2 separate regions of the Homo sapiens genome follow, and region 2 is reported to be linked to region 1. Evidence: microRNA targets listed by miRTarBase, many of them from high-throughput screens and not tested one by one. Region 1 holds a microRNA gene; the other region holds the end of a gene's coding sequence.

The links. The annotated mature microRNA hsa-miR-6127 reads UGAGGGAGUGGGUGGGAGG and lies in region 1 at 1,615-1,633, opposite strand. An mRNA with a match to its seed (bases 2 to 7 or 8) in the 3' UTR can be bound and repressed. Matches are read on the target gene's strand: a 7mer-m8 pairs with bases 2 to 8, a 7mer-A1 pairs with bases 2 to 7 and ends in A, and an 8mer does both.
Region 2: the mRNA of CHTF8 is a reported target of hsa-miR-6127. Seed matches in the 3' UTR shown: 7mer-m8 at 1,476-1,482.

What each region holds. Positions count from the first base shown.
Region 1 is chr1:22,631,714-22,635,861 of GRCh38, forward strand. It overlaps MIR6127 (microRNA 6127), which reads right to left and starts at 1,653; the gene lies at 1,545-1,653.
Region 2 is chr16:69,116,732-69,120,731 of GRCh38, forward strand. CHTF8 (chromosome transmission fidelity factor 8) reads right to left here. Exons shown (of 4, transcript NM_001039690.5): 4 at 1,279-3,918. The coding sequence ends at 3,694. It overlaps HAS3 (hyaluronan synthase 3), which reads left to right. Exons shown (of 4, transcript NM_001199280.2): 4 at 1-929. It overlaps DERPC (DERPC proline and glycine rich nuclear protein), which reads right to left. Exons shown (of 3, transcript NM_001002847.4): 3 at 1,279-3,918. The coding sequence starts at 3,697. The coding sequence ends at 2,123. Among named protein-coding and RNA genes, the nearest start is that of HAS3, 13 kb to the left of the region's middle.

The DNA.
Region 1 (4,148 bases):
TCTGGGCTCTGGAGAAATGGAAGAATATGCCCTTCCTCTCCGCCTGAAGGTGTCCCTGTTGTGACATGCACAGGGCCATTGCTGACCCTTTTATTTCTCACACTAATGATATGCGCATTAGTATCGATGTCTTTTATTTCTTGGGAAGTGTTTATACTCTTGCAACAGCCTGATAAGTAAAATCATCCAACACTTGGAAATAAGGCAAATAGATAACCGGTGTCCTTTCAAAGTCAAATGAGAGCTGTATCTAACAAACCCTGCTAAGGGTCATCTGACACTCTAGGGGAATGTCACTTGGCTTGACTTATTATTTACTATTGATTAGAGCCCAGATTCAGTAAAGATAGCTGTTAACTGGTAGAAAACTGTTAAGTTGCAAATTATTTTTGTCTAGTAGAGATGCAAATGATTTCTTTTCAATAGAGAAGATAGCCCCAACATGATGATTTTATTGCCCTATAGAACACTAACCAGTTTTGTATCTAATTTAGCAATTTTATGAATATTCCAGAATTCTTGTTGTTTTAACTGACTCTCTCTGTCTCCATATATAGGTATACATATATATTTTTTTCCATATCCATTGAACTAGCTTTGTCACCCAGCTGGTTCCTCCATTAACAACCTACAAGAGGACACTGACACATTCCCACACTGTATTTCTATAGGAACTGGGTATTCAATATTTTGAAAACTAGACTTTGAGAAGCTTTTCACAGTATCTGATTTTTCCTCTTGCCAACTCTTGCCCCTGTCTGTGTGACCCGGGCAAGTCTTTTTTTGTCTCTGGTCCTTTGTGTCTTCAGAGTAAAATAGGGCACGCAGGGCTGGCGTTTCTGCCTCGGGCATGTCATGTTTCTAACTCCTCTGGCAGGCAAGCAGGGCTGACGCAATGCAGTCAAAGAAGATGGATACTGGGCCGGGCGCGGTGGCTCACACCTGTAATCCTAGCACTTTGGGAGGCCGAGATGGGCAGATCACCTGAGGTCAGGGGTTTGAGACCAGCCTGGGCAACATGGCAAAACCCCGTCCCTACTAAAAATACAAAAATTAGCCGGGCGTGGTGGTGCACACACGCCTGTAATCCCAGCTACTTGGAAGGCTGAGGCAGGAGAATCTCTTGAACCCAGGAGGCAGAGGTTGCAGTGAGCTGAGATCGAGCCACTGCACTCCAGCCTGGGCAACAAAGTGAGACTGTCTCAAAAAAAAAAAAAAAAAAAGAAGAAGAAGAAGAAGAAGAAGATGGATACTGGGCTGGGCGCGGTGGCTCACGCCTGTAATCCCAGCACTTTGGGAGGCCGAGATGGACAGATCACCTGAGGTCAGGAGTTTGAGACCAGCCTGGGCAACATGGCAAAACCCCGTCTCTACTAAAAATACAAAAATTAGCTGGGCATGGTGGTGCATGCGTGCCTGTAATCCCAGCTACTTGGAAGGCTGAGGCAGGAGAATCTCTTGAACCCAGGAGGCAGAGGTTGCAGTGAGCTGAGATCCAGCCACTACACTCCCACCTGGGCAAAAAAATGAGACTCTGTCTCAAAAGAAGAAGAAGGAGGAGGAGGAGGAGGAGACTGGAAGGGATGTTAGAGGCCATTTGGGGCAGCCTTCCCACCTCCCACCCACTCCCTCATCTTGGTAGATGGAGAAAGTGGGGTTCAGAAAGATGAGATAACTTGCCCAGGGTCACACTGTGAGTTAGGTATGGGCTGAGCAGATGAGATTCCAGCTCCACGAACTTTCTGAATCCAGGGAGCATGGGAGGGGCTGTCAGGGGGAGCTCTGGGCCCCCACCCTTCAAGCCAGTATCCCCATTTTTATCTGTTTGACATACATCAGATGCCACACAAGATTGCAAATGAAAAAGAAGTCCCCAAAGCTCAAAAACCCTGGCTCTAGACCATCCTTCATCTGCCCACTTCAACAGCCTTCCCTTATCTCCTCCCTCCTCCTCCTCTTTTCCTCCTCCTGCCTCTGGCAAAATTTTCAGAAAACAAACAAACAAACAAAAACATGCTCATGAGAAGAAGCAGACAGATGTGGTCAGCCCAGGCCTGAACACATTGGTCTCCAGTCTGGGAGAGACAGAGCCTCTCTATCTAAAGAAAAGCATTCTCAGGGTCCAAGCTGACAATGATGCAGTGTGCCGTGCTGACAGGTAATGAGCATCCCATCAGTTAAGGTGAGTAAGGCTAGATGATCTGTTCAAACACTAGCAGCAATTGTCTCTAGATGGTAGAATTCACAGGCTTTTGTTGCTGGGTTTTGTTTTTTGTTTTTTTTTGAGATGGTGTTACAGGATCTTTGGGGTGTCATTTTCTGGCCGGAAACCTCTGTGGCTGGTGGCACCTTTGCCCAAGTTTTGCTCAGGCCCACTGGGCTTGTTTCACTCACTCCTCCTGGCAGGCAGCACTCAGCTCACATTACCAGCCTGGGTTCCACATCTGCCCAGGGCAAGTCAGGCATGGAACAGTGAAGGGTGTGTGAGTGAACATGGGGTCTGGCCACTGCACACAGTCAGACATGCCGGCTGCTGCAGCGGGGTGAGCAGCTCCAGGTGCCAGCATGGGCGCCAGCTCTCTGAGAGGTTGTGGCTAGACCAAGTACACCACAAGCAGCTTCCACAGCTGGCACCGGGGAACACGGTGGCACCCAGAAGCTTCGAGATGCCAGGAACCACAGGGCCCCGAAAAGGGAGTCACAGCTCCAGCTTGGGGAGCTCCCAGGTCTGGGTTCCCCAGAGGGCCGCAGCTCTTCTTTCCTTCCCTTCACCTGCATCATGGCAAGCAAGGGGCATGTTTCAGCCTTGTTTGTGTTACAGCTCTTTCAGCCCCACCATTTGATGGGTCCCAAGTTCTTATCCTGCAACCAGGAAGAATGAGGTATGCAGACAAGTGGGGAGTGAGCAAGACGAAGAGGAGCTTTACTGAGCGATAGAACAGCTCAGCCTCCTGCAGAGCCTCCCTCAGGGGGCAGCTCCTTTCCACAGCCAGGGTGTCCTGATGAGTGTTCAGCTGCTAGCAGAGAGGAGACCCTGGAATGGGAAGCTCCTCTCTGCAGGCAGGTCATCCTGTCGACTTTCCAGCTCTCAGAAGAGGGAAGACCCTGGAATGGGAAGCTCCTTTCTGCAGGCAAGTTGTTCTGCCATCTCTGCAGCTCTCAGCAGAGAGGAGGCCCTGGAGCGGGTAGCTCCTCTCGGCAGCTGGTCATCCAATGTCTGCCCAGCTCTGGCTGAGCCTGAAGCTTTCATGAGCCTCAGAGAGGAGGAAGTGCATACTGATTGGTCCATGGGTGGCTATAGGCAAGCCCAGAAAATACACCATAAGTTCCCACTCTGGTGTGTGGGACTGGCAGCCTGGCCCCCAGCCTTGAGGCCCTCCCTGGCTTGAAGGTAGGGCCTCACCAGGGACCCATCCCCTTCCACCCAGGAGCCTGTCTGTCTCCTGCTGCTGTTCATGGTGCCCAGGCTGTTCATGCCAAGGAGCGTCTGCAGGCCAGTGCCGAGCTGCCCTCAGTTTCCCCTTGGCTTTCCTTCCATGCTAGTCAGTGCCCAAAGTCCAGAGGGGGCCAAGGCAGCAGGGGTCTAGTGTGTCAGCACTGCCCCAAGCATGCCCACACCCAGCCAGGCTGCGACAGCACCCAGGCTCAGCACCAACTTTGCTCTAAGATCAGAGTGGGCGCCAAGAGGAGGGAGAAGCCAGGCAGTGGGAGCAGACACTTCTGAGCCTGAAGGGTGGGGCGGGGGGCCTTCCCGGGCCCCCAAGATTGCAGGGATGCCTGGGTCCACAGCTGCAGTTTAGGCAGCTGCAGCTGCATGGGGGATGGCGGGGGCCCCCACCTGCTCCATGAAGCAGGATCAGCTGTGGTTTGGCAGCTGCAGTGGTTCCCAGGAGGGCGGGGTTCCCACTGTCCCCAGCTCCCACTGGCTACATGGAGCATGCAGCCCTGGCCGTGCCTCCCTGCTGCAGCCAGTGTGATGACAGCAGCCATTCCAGACGGCCCGCCATTGCCATCTCTTTTTTTTTTTTTTTTTTTTGAGATGGGGTCTTGTTCTGTCTCCCAGGCAGGAGTGCAGTGGTAAGATCAAAGCTCACTGCAGCCTCAACCTCCTGGGCTCTAGCAATCCTCCCAGCTCAGCCTCCCAAATA
Region 2 (4,000 bases), not on the chromosome of region 1:
TTTCCAGTGACTTGCAATCCAGGCTGTTCTCAGCGTTTTGAGTTTAAAACCTGGGATCCTGACTAAGCCTTTGACTTAAGGGTTGCTTGCTTGCCCTCCAAATGTCCTTTCTCAGAGGGGCCAGCTAACCCGTGCAGAACCAGCACTAAGGTGGACAGCAGACAAGAGGGCAAGCCTCTAGTGTACCAAGTGCTTCCTACAAAGACGCAAGGTGTGCTCTGAGCCACAGATGGGCAAACCCTGGTGCTTTCCTTCATCTCCCACGAACTCAAGGGTTTTCCAGGTGTAGCTAACAGTTGCCACATCACACAGACCTCGAGTTTCTGGTAAGACTGCTGGTTGACATCAGACCCAACCCATGAAGGCTGGAAGGCAGCAGGCATTTGCTAAGGCAGCTGATCCAGGCAATCGTTCTGCTGGCCAAGAAGTTAAACTATTTTGAGCATTAGAATGGAGGAAATCCGGTCAGCCAAGTGCAGAGTTCAGACTTCGCTAAGGGCTTGTTTTTCTTCAGCATTTACTTGAAGATTAATGTAGGATGACAGGCTCTCCTGGCTGTCCTACCATCAGCTCTGCCTTGCACTGTGGTCGTCAACTTTCCTCAAATCAAAAACAGGCAGGTACAGGTAGTGGGCTCACAACGTTTGACCTCGACTGGTTTTTCTAAGTTATTTTGTACATTTTTCAGCAGCAAAACCAAACTGGGTCTTCAGCTTTATCCCCGTTTCTTGCAAGGGAAGAGCCTTTATACAATTGGACGCATTTTGGTTTTTCCTCATTGAGAATTCAAATCCTCTTTTGTATTGTTTCTACAATAATTTGTAAACATATTTATTTTTACCTGCTTTTTTTTTTTTTTTTAATTTTCAGGTCAAGTTTTTTATACTGCACTTATTTGTCAAAATAAAGATTCTCACATATGCCGGTTATCTCGAAACTACTACTTTGTATTTAATGAAAGCTAGCTCTTTATTCCAGTTTCCAAAGAGGGACTTAAAATAGAAAGTTTAGTCAGGTGGGACTCAAGACCTGGGCAATATGTCCATCCTGGTAACTACACCCATGGGGGCTTAACTTTTAGTGTAGAGGGTCTTTGGTGAAATAACTAACTGGCAGATGAATGGGCCCTTGCTAAGACTAAAAACCAAAGCTTGCTTCCTCTTGGAGCAAAAGCATTTTAGCCGACATGATGTAAGACTGTAGCCAAGCTGAAACAATGAAAAGCAGAGGAAACTTCCTTCCCTATGAAACAGGTAACAAAACACAGTGACACCAGCAGCCCTCTCATCCCATTTATTAAAGAAACAGTAAGAAAAGATACAATGCAGGAAAACCACCAACCATCCTTGCACACCAGGCCGAACAAAGCACAGTGATTTCTTCCCTTCATCCCCCACCCCCACCCTAATTCCCATATTCCCATCCACATCAGTTTAAATTTTGAGGTTCTTTGATTGATTGGGAGTACCAGTGAAGAGGGAGTTGGATGAGTAGAGGGGCCTTAAATCTGGCCACCTCTAAGTCCCAGGAGAAGGGAGCTGCAGGCCCAGTCAGTCAAGCAGAAACTGCATTCGGTGGGTCTTTCTTTGAAGTGGTTGTCCATCTCCCTGTTCTGTGTTCAAGCCCCCAGGGAAAGGTATGGCAGTAGAGGATGACCAGGTCCAAGCTGCCCAGGTCAGAGCTACGGAAGCATGGTCCGTTCACCAACGCCACGTTTCTAGAGAGCAGTGAGCTGATTCTCCAATGGTGAGCAGGGGACTACATGTGAACTGGGACCTGCAGGCCAATGTATCCCTGAGGAAAAGTCCACAAGAACAATTCAAGAAACTAGTAAGAAACAATGGGCAGAAAGCTGTGGGACGAAAGCACAGCAGGCTTCTGGGAGGCTGGAGATCCTTTCTCTCAAGGGCAGGATTATTCCCACCTGCCACAGTTCACATGCCACAAATAACATCTCACCTTCAGTCAAGAAAAACGCAAAGGAAAAAGATGGCTCATTTGAACTTGAGCCCAAGCTATGTTCTTCAGACTGTAGCTCCACAACTACCCTTTTACCTAAGACAGCCCCTGCCAAGAACCACAGTGCCTAGAAACCAAGGTGGTCCTGGAGGGAAAATGGTGTTTAAGGGGGCAACATTCCATTTGGGTACATTGCAGCCATTGGACCCCCTGGTCTGGGGAAAGCAGCTGGGTTTGTGCCAGGGAGGCTCCCCACTCTAGGAAATGGGACGAAACTCTTGCCTGCAGGGCCATTCATCCTTGGAAAGGAAGCTGGGTTGAGACCCAGGGTCCCAGTTGGCCTTGTGAAAGGAGCTGGGTTGATACCCACAGGGCCAGCTGGAGAAGGGCCCAGATGCCCGGCAGCTGGCCTGGGGAAAGTAACTTGACCAGGGCCTAATGGGCCAGTAGACCTTGGGAAGGTAGTTGGACTTGGACCCTGCAGGCCAGTGGCCCTTGGGAAGTTAGCTGGGTTGGGGCCAAGTGGCCCAGAGGCTCTTGGGAAAATGGTTGGATTTGAGCCCTGGAGGCCAGCGGACCTTTGGAAGGTAGCTGGGTTTGATGCCAATGTGCCAGAAGACTGAGAAAAGGCAGATGAACCTGCTCCCCTGGGAAAGGGATTGGCATTTACCCCCATGGGGCCAACTGGCCTTGAGAAATGAGCTGAATTAGGGCCTATGGGGCCAGGAGCCCTTGACATGGGAGATGGATTTGGCCCTGGAAGGCCAATTCCCCGAGAGCTAGGACCCGAGTTTGGGCCCATGGGGCCAGGTACTCTTGCCATGGAGGATGGGCTTGTGCCCATGTTTCCAGAAGCCTGTGAGAAAGAAGCTGAATTTGCTCCTAAAAGACCTGCTGCTCTTAGAATGGGGGCAAGATCGAGGCCTTGAGGTCCAGCCATTCTTAAGTTAAGACCAGATCCTGTGCCCAAGAGGCCACCTGCTCTGGCATCTAGATTAGGGCCTGGGCCCAGGCCACTTGGTCTTGGGTTGGGCCCAAGGCCTGGGCCTGGAAACACACCTGACCTGGGGGCAGGGTTTGTCCCTAAAAAGCCTGATCTCAGATTGGGGTTTGGTCCTGGGCCCAGGCCAACTGGCCTAGGATTGGGAGGACCATTCCCAGAGGTTAACAGAACACCGGCTCTCAGGTTAGGTCCAGATCCAGGGCCCATGGGACCACCACCTCTGGGGTCAGGACCTGCTCCCAGGAGACCACCTGCCCTTGGGTTGGACATAGGACCTGGTCCTGGGAGACCCCCTAACCTGGGGTTAGACAGAGGCCCTGGGCCTGGCAGAGCCCCTGTCCTAGGGTTTAGGGTGGGGCCTGGGCCTGGGCCTGGCCCCAAGAGGCCACCAGGCCTTGGGAAAGAAACTGCACCTGTGCCAGTGGGATTCATCCCTCTTGGAAAAGAAGCCATACTTGGGTCACGAGCACCAGCCGGGAAAGGTGCTGGATTTGAAGCCAATGAGCCTGATGAAGCTGGAAAAGGAGATGGGTTCCTTGGAAATGGGGTCAGATTTCCACCAAGAGAACCGGCCGCCATAAGGAAGGGATCCGAGTTCACACCCAGTGGGTGGCCTGTGTTCAGAACAGGACCCCCCTGTGGTCCCAGGGAACCGTCGAGCCGTCCTCGAGGTGGCAGCGGAGCACGAGTCCAAGGAGTTGGCCGCTCTCTAGGGAAAATCCGAGGTTCTTTCATACTTTCTTGGGGACGCTGGTGATAATGGGCTTGGGGCGGGTTTTGAAAAGGATCTTGTCTTTGATGAGTGCTGTCACCAGGTACCGGGTGCCAGTCTCGCGGCCAAGCTCATCACAGTCCTGATCCCCAGGAGTGTGTTTGACAAGGACTGCAAAAGGTTTCTCCAGGTGGATGATTTTCCCATACAGGATATGATGCCCCACGATCAGCACAGGGATTCCCTTTGGCAGAACAAGAACGAGATTCCTGAGGTTCCGGGGCAAGGCCATAACACTCAGGCGCCTCCTAAAGCTGCTCTTGGCA